4 separate regions of the Homo sapiens genome follow, and all the other regions are linked to region 1. The links come from fine-mapping of genetic effects on gene expression. A gene starts in region 1. Each other region holds a variant in brackets. All regions are shown on one strand. Distances are between the middles of the regions.

The links. PIP is the estimated chance that this variant, and not a neighbour inherited with it, causes the effect.
Region 2: its variant is fine-mapped to the expression of CD44 in whole blood (TOPMed, PIP above 0.99).
Region 3: its variant is fine-mapped to the expression of CD44 in whole blood (INTERVAL, PIP 0.96).
Region 4: its variant is fine-mapped to the expression of CD44 in whole blood (INTERVAL, PIP above 0.99).

What each region holds. Positions count from the first base shown.
Region 1 is chr11:35,137,958-35,140,707 of GRCh38, reverse strand. It overlaps CD44 (CD44 molecule (IN blood group)), which reads right to left and starts at 1,537. Exons shown (of 18, transcript NM_000610.4): 1 at 1,338-1,537. The coding sequence starts at 1,404. CD44-DT (CD44 divergent transcript) reads left to right here and starts at 2,676. Exons shown (of 3, transcript NR_120528.1): 1 at 2,676-2,750. RefSeq lists enhancers at 140-640, 1,808-2,372 and a silencer at 1,828-1,897.
Region 2 is chr11:35,302,791-35,305,290 of GRCh38, reverse strand. The region is part of intron 5 of SLC1A2 (solute carrier family 1 member 2); the gene reads left to right. Among named protein-coding and RNA genes, the nearest start is that of SLC1A2-AS1, 22 kb to the right of the region's middle. The variant C/A (reference allele first, on the strand shown) is at 1,470.
Region 3 is chr11:35,106,400-35,109,149 of GRCh38, reverse strand. No RefSeq gene overlaps it. Among named protein-coding and RNA genes, the nearest start is that of CD44-DT, 30 kb to the left of the region's middle. The variant C/T (reference allele first, on the strand shown) is at 1,525.
Region 4 is chr11:35,219,121-35,221,870 of GRCh38, reverse strand. It overlaps CD44 (CD44 molecule (IN blood group)), which reads right to left. Exons shown (of 18, transcript NM_000610.4): 16 at 2,484-2,555; 17 at 139-217. Among named protein-coding and RNA genes, the nearest start is that of CD44-AS1, 5.5 kb to the right of the region's middle. The variant AG/G (reference allele first, on the strand shown) is at 1,107.

The sequences.
Region 1 (2,750 bases):
AGCTTCAGTAGTATAAATCCTAGATCCCCAAATCCCCACCTAGCAAAGACCTCTCACTCACACAGAAAGGGAGATGCATATGCACAGAGAACTCATCCTGCCTAGCCTCCACCTAGGGTCACTTTCTTCCTACTGCAGAAAGTAGGAAGATAGAGAAAGCAGAAAGTAATTCAAGATACTTTATACTGGGTACTCAATCTAAACTACCTGGGTGAGACTGTGTGTTTCAATTTCTCAGTACTCCCGTGGAACTGGGTTAATAAATATTTGCTGAGTAGAATTTACTGCATGCAGGCTGAGCTGTCTTAATGACCCAGCTGGCACTTCTTAAAAGAAAGATTAATTTTGGCCAGCGATAAGCAAATCGGCCATGTAATTATCTGTACATACATAGACAAAGAAAGAGAATGCTTGGAGTTGAGCCGTGCTAGAATATACCTTACACGCAGCCCCTCCCCTCCATAGCCACCACAAAGCACTGACCCTGTTTGGATGAGATATTGGAGCCCTAGCTCCAGGGTCCCTGATGTTGCCCTGGTATCAAGGCTCTTCTCTCTGCTCTGAGGCTGCCAGGCAGGGAATATAAGCCACCTTACTGTTGAGATTTCCCCACACTGATTGGCAGAAGCAGGAGGTGGTGAGGACCAAGCAGCTGGTCCAGTGGTTGCCTCTCATATTCATGCTCCCTATCCCAGGCTGGAATCTCATGGAGACCCAAGACCTCACCGCAGAGCTGGTTCAAGCTTCCACAGCGCTAAGGTGGCAGTGACACTGCGGACTGTAAGCTTTGGAACAAGGCTCAGTGGGGAGCTGGGAGAACCCAGGACCCCTTTCTGGAAAACCCATTGCCAGCTAGTCTCACACTTGGAATTGTGATCCCTTCTGTGACCACCTTGATAACAGCCACTCGCCCTGTTCCAGCCCCAGTCTCTGCCCCGCCCAGCTCTGCCCTGCCTAGACACAGCCCGGTGGGGCTTGGCGAGCCCTTGGGCACAGGAGCCTGTTAGTCCAGACAACGACTGTGCGCATCCGGGAGAACGGTTACTTTCTGCCATGTGCTGCAGCTCTAGCGACCTCGCCCAAAACTGCGCGCCGGCAGCCTGCCCAACAAACTTTCTTCTCTTTCTCTTTTTCTTTCAACCAAATGGTGCTTCCACAGACACATTCTCCAACGGTTTAGCGCAAATCCCAGCCCTGCTTTCCGGAGCCCAATGCACTTCGCAGACAGCTCACTTGACTCCAGTCCCCCAGGGCCGACTCAGCCGGAGGGGCTGCCGCCGGGTCCGCGCTGAGCACCCCGCACCCATCTTGCTGCCCAGGCTGCGGCGGGCACTCACCGATCTGCGCCAGGCTCAGCGGCACGAGGCAGAGTCCCCAGGCTGCGTGCCACCAAAACTTGTCCATGGTGTCCGGAGCGAACGGAGGGCGCGGGCGAAAGGAGCTGGAGGATCCCTGGGCGCGGGGCAGGGGCCGGCGGAGGACGGGACGAGGATGGCGGACCGAACCTGGCAGAGGCTGGGGTCCGCTGGGCAATGAGGCTGCCTCGGAAGTTGGCTGCAGTTTTTATTCGAGGTTGAAAACAGTGACCTAAGACGGAGGGAGGGAGCGAGCGAAGGACACACCCAAGCAAGGGGGGCTGTGACTAAGCAGCCCGCAGAGGTTTTAAGAAGTAGCAGCCCTCCCGGGCGGGCCCCTCTGCCCCCGCCCCGTGCTCTGCTGAGGCTGTAAATAATCGGGGCTGCCAGGGACGTGGGTCGGGGAACCTGGAGTGTCGCGGGGTGCCTGTGCCTCCGAGCCCCACTGGCCCCTGCGCCCAGAGACGCACTGGCTTTCTTCTCCCGCTGGCCCCGCGGCGTCAGGACAGAGGATGACCGAACCGTAAAACCTTGCACCATTGGGTTCAGCCTTTGGCCTCTCCTTTCCCGCTAAATTTCTCTGAATCCGGCTGGAGCAAGATCTCTGGGTTTCACAGGATGTTGGATATCCTGGGAGAGGAGCTGGAGAGAGGGCGAGGTCTTGCCCTGGGTGGCGCAGTGCCTCCGTGCCCACAGTGGGGAGTGAGGGGTGGGGAGTTGGTGAATCTTCCAAGTGGAAAGAGGGAGAGCTCATTCTTTTTCCCCTCAATAACAAGTCCACATGGCTTGAATGAATTTTAGCTTCTTGGCAGAACAGCTCAGGGAAAGCTACTGATGGCCTGTCATAGGGCTGGCATTTGGCTCAGCTAACCCATGTGTTCAAGCCAGTGTGAATGGGCACCTCTCTCCACACACATGCTCATTCATCCTCCTAAATATCCTTCCATCCGCCCATCCATCTATCCACCCATCTTTCCTTATGTCCTTCTGGGGCTCTCACATCCATCCATCCTCCTGTCCATCCACTAACCACTTAGGTCCATCTATCATCCCACTCATTCATTCATCCAACCACACACCTTTTAATTTATTCAACCACCTATTCTTCTATTCATCTTCCCATACAACTTCTCATCCATCATTCCACACTTCCTTTTTCACATCTCTTCATAAAACCACAACCATCCACCATCCTCTTCTCCACCCATCCACCCACATATCTGTTTATTGATATATCCACTCATTTCCCATCTGTCCAAGATCAACATATCCACCTATCATTTTATCCATTCTCTCATCCACCCATACGTTCATCTATTATTTTTGCCCCCATTATCCTCCTTTCTGTGTAAACATTAATTCATTTTCTCCCATCTTTCCTACCCAGCAGATCTT
Region 2 (2,500 bases), 160 kb before region 1:
AGCTGTGATCATTATTCAAAGTGGGTGGAGAGCTGAGGAGTTCAGTAAGAAAATACCTCCATGAGGGACAGAGGTTTATTACCATGTGAGCGGCTCTAGTCTGCCCAGTTTGCTCCCCTCCCACTCAGTGGGTCCACTCCCTTCCGTAACCTCCATCCATCACTAGAATGGTGTCCCCGAGACAGGAAATAGGGGCATTTGGCCAAAACCTGGGAGAAATGGTGAATCTGGATGGATGAAGTATGTTTATTTATCCAAGCACAATTTCTAAAGGTTTGGATGACAGCTACTTAGAGATGAATGAGCTCAGTAGTCCTTTCACGTTGTCATCTGAAAGATCACATGGCCTTGTCTCCTTAGTTGGGTTGTCAGATAAAATACAGAATGCCTGGATAAATTTGAATTTTAGATAAAAAGCAAATAGTTTTTTAGTGTAAGTCACAAATATTGCATGGGACATAATAATACTAAAAAAAAAGTATTCATTTTTTACCTGAAATTCAAAAAGTAATTGAGTGTCATGTTTGTTTGTTTGTTCCAAATTTGGTAAGCCTACTCCTTAGCCATCTAGAATGGTAGAGAGAAAGAGGAGAGAGAGGGAGCAGAATTGCACAGTCACTGAGAAGCAGAAGCAGATCTTTTTTGTTTGGCTTGGCAGGAAGCAGGTTGGATGAGTGAGAGTGAGGGAAGAGATGAGCTGACTAGGTTGCTGGGCAATGGAAGATCAATAAACATTGTTTAACAACCAGTGGGAGGTGAGAGGTGGAAGGAGCGAGGAGTAGGAAGGAGAGTTCCTCTGGGGAGATTTTGCAAATATCCCCAGCACCCACCACCGAGCAGCTCTTCTCCCTCACTGTCCAGCTATCTATGTTCCTTTCAGGTCCTTCCTAACTCCCCCATGGTCTTTTCTGGTGGGTCATAACTTAAAACACCCAACCCCCTTTTGTCAAAGTGTTCCTCAGTCTTCTCCATACTCAGGAGGAGCTTGAGGCCATGAACAATGGGGCCAGGGCTTTGGAGTGAATCATTCAAAGACTTTCCTGGTTGTTTCCAGAGTCTTGGTGGATTCTGGGAAGTCACAGGACCTTTGGCTCTACTGGGGAGTTTCAACACAACTCACTACTCTGTAACCCCAGCGGCCAAGTCCAAGAGGGTTTTGTTCAGATGCAACACCCCCGTTCCAGTGAGCAATTTCAATTAGGCAATGTTTACAAAGAAAAATTACAAGCTGAATACGGTTTCCATCCAAGTGCAGATCAAGGCTCTGGAAAGCCAAGGGAAGTTAGACTGTTGAGAAACTTCCCATTTACAAATCATGGCTGAAATAAGGTTCTTTCCACGGTCTTCTGAGGGTGGAGATAGTGGCTTTTTTATTTGTTTGTTTTGCTGTCTTTCTGTTTTTTGGCTTTGGAAAGTCCCGAGGATTAAGCACTTGCAATAAGTGAAGATACAACCCCAGCTCTTGCCTC[C/A]CACTTCTTTAAGGAACCATTTCTCTCCTAAAAAACCTCCAGAAACAATTCTGGTCTCCACCCTCTCCCAACTGCTTAAATCAACTCCAACTGTTCCTTTAAAAACCTATCTCTCATAGATATGGCCAGTTTCTGCTGACACTGAATGGAGCTTTTTTTATTCCAGTTCTTTGGGACCTTGATACCTCGGGCATTTTCTCTTAATTTCAAATGAAATTAACCAAGTAATATGAGCTATTCTCAGCCAGAATATTCAGATTGATTCTCTTTGACCTCCCACGTAGCAGACTCCTCTCCATGGGCTTGAGAGAAGGACTTGGGAATGGCCTGAAATTGATTTTGTACATTACTGCGGAACTAGTTCCCTCTGTCCTGGATCTAATCTTCCCTAAGCCTTTGTCTTTCCAGACCAATAACTTACTTGTGAAGTCATTTGTCAAGCTTTCTAGCTGAGAGCAAAAAGAGGAGATACTAAATGTGAAGTATTAGTAACCCCAAGTGCAAGTGATGGATTCTTTTTGCTGAAGATAGAAAGGATCCAGCAAAGGGTAGTTAGACAATCTGGGTTGATATGTGCTTGGTGTAAAGAGGTTAGTGGGTTAGATGACTAGGGAAAGAGTAAAGTCAAAGGTTCAGAGAGAAGGAATTTTGTTATAAGAGAATCAAATTATAATGCTAAAATTTACTGAGTATGGGTTAAGACTTTAGGCATAACTGGACACCATAGGAAACTGGATATAATAGGGAGGGACTGGAAATTAGGACTGCCAAATTGAGCAGGTTAGGTGTGGAGAAGAGGAGGAAAGAGAAGATGGCTCATACTTCAGAGTCAGAGAACAAGTCAGGTGGGGAAGCAAAGTCCTGTAGCCAAGGACATAGCAACACTGATTTATAGAACATGTAAGTAGTAAGAACTGAGACCTCAAGAATGGCAATACTAGATCAGGGGTCAGAGGTCAGGGAGCACATGGGGATTGGAAATTAGAAATCCAGATAGCCCCCAGGCAGTACTGGAAACACCTGTAAGCCGC
Region 3 (2,750 bases), 32 kb after region 1:
CATCTCTCTCAAGTTCAAATTTCTACAGACCTCTAGGGCAGGAGCAAAAGGCTGCCAGTCTCTGCATAGCAAGAGTGGCCTTTACTCCAGTGCCCAATAAGTTCCTCATCTCCATCTAAGAGCAACTCAGCCTGCACTTTATTGTCCATATCACTATCAGCATTTTGGTCAAAGTCATTCAACAAGTATCTAGGAAGTTCCAAACTTTCTCACATCTTCCTGTCTTATGATCCCTCTAAGTCTCTACAAGTTCCAAACTTTCCCATATTTTCCTTTCTTCTTTGGGGACCTCTGAACTGTTCCAACCTCTGCCTGTTACCCAGTTCCAAAGCCACTTCCATGTTTTCAAGTACCTTCACAGCAGCACCCCACTACCCAGTACCAATTTACTTTTCCCAGTCTGTTCTTACACTGTTATTAAAGGCATATCCAAGACTGGGTAATTTATAAAGGAAAAAGTTTTAATTGACTCACAGTTCAACATGGCTGGGGAGCCTCAGGAAACTTACAATCATGGCAGAAGGGGAAGCAAACACGTCCTTCTTCACATGGCAGCAGCAAGAAGTGCCAAATAAAAGGGGGAAAAGCCTCTTATGAAACCATCAGACCTCATGAGAACTCACTCACTATCATGAGAACAGAGCCATGGGGGTAACCAGCCACATGATTCAATTACCTCCCACTGGGTCCCTCCCATGACATGTGGGGATTATGGAAACTAAATTCAAGATGAGATTTGGGTAAAGACACAGCCAAACCATATCACTCTCTGACCAAGAGACATAGGTGGGAAATTCTCCAAATATAACAAGAGGGTTTAGATGCTGGGCAGTGAAACAGAATGACAGATGTCCATTTTGCTAGTTTGAGGAAAGTAAACATTATATAATTTTCATTTCCTTAAAAAATTCTATTTTCACACTGCTATAAAGAAATACCTGAGACTGGGTAATTTATAAAGGAAAGGTGTTTTAATTGACTCACAGTTACATATGGCTGAGGAGGCCTCAGGAAACTTACAATCATGGTCAAAGGGGAAGCAGACACATCCTCCATGGCAACAGGAGAGAGGGGGAGTGTTTGAAGGAGAAACTGTCAAACACTTACAAAACCATCAGATCTTGTGAGAACTCACTCACTATCACAAAAGCAGCATGGGGGAAACCACCCCCACGGTCCAATCACCTCCTACTAGATGCTTCCCTTGACACGTGGGAATTATGAGGATTACAATTTAAGATGAGATTTGGATGGGGACACAGCCATACCATATTACAGACATTTAAAAAATAATAAATTTACATGTTAGCCCCAAAGGAGCCAGTGTTTCCTTGGCATGAAAAGTGCTTTCTCAAAGTCTCTGCATCTTGGGGAGTCCAAAAAAATTGATTGTGTAGCTTTGAACATTTTAATAAGAAACTAGTATGTGGATACTGGGTAGAAACAGTAGACCTTGTCTAGACTAGCTATCTGGATTTTAGCTCATTATATGTTCACTTTTGAAATTTCACTAGTCTTATCTAT[C/T]AGAGTTTTAGCACAAAACAGATCCAAAGGATGATTGAAGAGAGAGTTAAGAGGAGCTATTACAAAAGTATAGACCTCCTTAGAGGAAGCAAAAAAGAGATAATGAAATACCCTGGGACTAGTAAGGACAGGATCTGTTATGATTATGTCTGAAACAGCAAAGAGAAGAAGCAAACCCAGGAGTCCTGCATCTGACAGAGGGCAAGAAGGTGCTGGTGATGTACCACAACATATACCATCAGTCCGCCTGACTTTAGCACCACAGGGTGGACAGTTGCACACACTTTACCTGAGTCCCACCTCAAGAGCAAAGATAGATTGTTCAAGGTCTTTCTTAATTGTGCTCCTTGGGGCTTTTTCCAAAGGTTCAGAAGGCCACTTAGCCAGCACAGTTACAATGGAGAAATTCGTGGAATATATGTCTCCAGGCGCAAACTCAATAGGTAGGTGGTGGAAGTGAGTGGATAAATGCCCGGAGCCCATCAGCCTCTGTGGAAATCATTCTGGGGCACATGCTCGTAATTCCTCAGGGAGCCCCCAAAGTCACTGCACCCCAATTGCCCACAACAATAACCAGATCATTTATAAACACTCCATTGGCTTTTCTTTCTTCTTTCTGCTCCCTGAGTCAACCTCCAACACTCAAGTTGCACTGCTTTCAAAAGAACCCAAACTAAGACACAGAAAATCAACTTTTGGCAGAGCAGCTCAATCACTGACAATCTGCAGCTGAACCTGAGGAATAAATAACCCTATATATCTCCTTCTACCCTCTGATATCCTGCCAGTTCCTCTCAGAAACCAGAAGTGAAAACATCTCGTTGATGTGGTCTGCAGAGACCAGTCTCCCAGGGCCCAGAGGAAGACCGAGAAGGGCAGAGAGTAGATTGGGAAGAGCAGATAGTAACTCTTCATCCTAGCCCATCTCTTTTGCCTTTTGGCCTCCATAAAGTCCCTCAAACACTGTATCATGTCAGGGTGAGTTCAGTCACATTGTCACCTGCAATCTAAAACTTTAATCACCACCTGTGCTCTTCTTAGAAGGTAGTGGGAGGAAACATAGGCAAAGATATAATTAACATAAAATATGGCTTCTACAGACCCTGTTTCTGTGCCTAGTCATTGGGATTAAGGTTATAACCATACTTTCCTTCTTCTACTACCCATTCTATGCTCTCCATACCTTCTGCCAGCACCCTGGTTGAATATGGTCCTTTACCTGTTGT
Region 4 (2,750 bases), 81 kb before region 1:
GAGATTGTGCATTTCCAACAAACTCCCAGGGTACCCAGGCTGCTGGTTCCAGGGACTACGCTCTGAGCAGCAAGGATATAAAGCCCAGGTTTAAATGATGCCCTTTCCAAGTTGAAAGCCCCCAGGACAGCCCCTTACCTTCTTCGACTGTTGACTGCAATGCAAACTGCAAGAATCAAAGCCAAGGCCAAGAGGGATGCCAAGATGATCAGCCATTCTGGTATGAGTAAATTAAATGACATGCGTGAGCTTCAGAGACACACTTTGTAAAAACAAAAATGCACTTTATAATTGACCTAGTTGAAACAAGCACCACAGTCAGCGCTGCAGGGGGGTCTGGCCAATAGGTCCAGCCAATAGGCAGGTAATTCTGGAAGAGCAATTTGCTGAAGGTATTTGTCCAACAGCCTTCTTGCTTTAATCTTTTATCATCAGTCAGGATTTTCAAGTCCCTTCAGGAGAACTATGTTTCTAAAAAAGGACAGGATGACTTGTTGAATCTTGTAGATGCCTTTGGTATAATATTATTAAACATATAAAAGGAAATGTAGGCTTCTTTTGAAAGGAACATTTTTTTCCTGTATAAGAGCATCCACCTATCCACCTTACATTGTATTAAAAAACAAAAATGGAGGCAATAAAGGATTGGTTAAATAAATTAGGGTACATCTATTGCATTACGCACTACAATATGAGGAGGAAATATTCAATGACATGGAAGCCATGGTTAACCAGTAGGCAATGTTTGCTAAACACCGTGTAAGGTGTAATCACATTTTGGTATATATTTTACATTTTAAAATGACAGGAAAGGCCGGGTGCGGTGGCTCACGCCTGTAATCCCAGCACTTTAGGAGGCTGAAGTGGGTGAATCACGAGGTCAGGAGTTTGAGACCAGCCTGACCAACATGGTGAAACCCCATCTCTAAAACTACAAAAATTAGCTGGGCATGGTGGCATGCTGTAATCTCAGCTACTCAGGAGGCTGAGGCAGGAGAATCGCTTGAACTCAGGAAGCAGAGGTTGCAGTGGGCCGAGGTCGCGCCACTGCACTCCAGCCTGGGCAACAAAGCAAAACTCCATCTCAAAAAAAAAAAAAAAAAAAA[AG/G]ACGTATATTAAAATGGTAACCATGGTATTTCTGGATGGTGAGATTGATAATAATTGATTTATATTTCCATTATTTTATTTAGTTGTATTTTTTCAAATGTTTTCAATAATTATATATCACTTGTGGATTAATATTCTACACATTTTGAAATCAGGCTCTTTTAGGACTAAAATATGACTTGACAACTCCACTAAATTCAGTTGCAAAGTGGGTTGTATATGTGTGCAATGAACCAGGGCTTGAGAAAGAAGAGGCATGGAAAGTCTCATTATCTGTTTTCTTCTTGGAAATTTTGGTTTATCTCTGATTTCCTGCTCAGCACTACCTTTGCCTCACCTTTTCCTGGTTTAGATGAGTTTGGAGAGGGAGGTAGAGTCAGAAGTGGGGGAGACTGACAGGAGGGCCCGATTTCTGTTCTTCCTTTCTACTCCTGCCCACTGTGGCCCTGGTTTCCAGCCCTGAGATATCCCACCTGCACTGTCACTGGAGCTGGGAAGAATCTTGCTGCCTGATGACAGCTAAGGCTTCCCCTGTGCTCTCCCTTGGGACAGCCCACCCCTGTCTCTGTCTGGTCTGTCTTCAGGTGTGCTTAGGCAAGCTGGGGCAAAGGAGAACGGTGCATGCCACATTCTTCTCTTTCCCCAAGAGAGGCTCAGTCTGGAGACCTCTGAAGAGGAGAGAATTAAAAGGGTAATTTACAACCTTAGGAGAACCCTTCCCTTTAGTAATTCTCTATGACAAATCAATTTTAATTCCAAGTCAAATAAAGAATTTGCAACAAATGCCTTGTCTTGATGCTCAGGAGAACCAGGTGTCCCAGCCTCCTCACTGCACATGCATACTTTCTGAAAAGTTTATTCTGTCCACATCAGCAGGCGGTCCCTCGACCAAAAAAAAATTAGTTGGGGAACCAAAAGAAAGTTTTCACTCCATCTAACATAAATGCCTCTTGTAGCTCCTCCCTGTCTGTAATCGTAAAAGGAAAATTACATGCTTCACCTTGGACCCCAGAAATAAGTGGAAATTGGATTGGGATAGAAAGGACCTAGGTATGACATGGGGTCCTCTTGGTGATCATTCATTTAGGAAGGAAGCTTTAGTAACTAACATGGCACTTCTCTGGGACAGGCCAGGGACAGATCTGAGTATGAGCTCAGCTAGTTTGCAGAACCCAGGAAGAAAAGACTATTCCATCTTTTCCTACCAAGAGGGTGTAGTATTCTCATTCATCCTTTAACTTGTAAAGAGGAGCAATTGGATTCATATGTTGGGCATTGTGGAGAATGTGCTTTCAAATGAGTCTCTTCGTCCTTGCTGGGACATTCTGAGAAAGCTGCTTTCAGTGTGTTTTTCTGCCTCAAAGTTTGAAACTCACCTGGAATTTGGGGTGTCCTTATAGGACCAGAGGTTGTGTTTGCTCCACCTTCTTGACTCCCATGTGAGTGTCCTAAGGGGAAAAACAACATCTCTCAACCAAAGTTTGAAATGTGTAACCATGAGTTCCTTGTGGAGCTGCATAAAGGGCAGCTCTCCACATTCTGAATCACTGAGAAGCCATTTATGGATTCAAGCTGCAGATGTTTATAAAGCATTACACAAAAGATTTCCCCCCCACCTCATTTGATTAAGGCTAAGGCTTAGT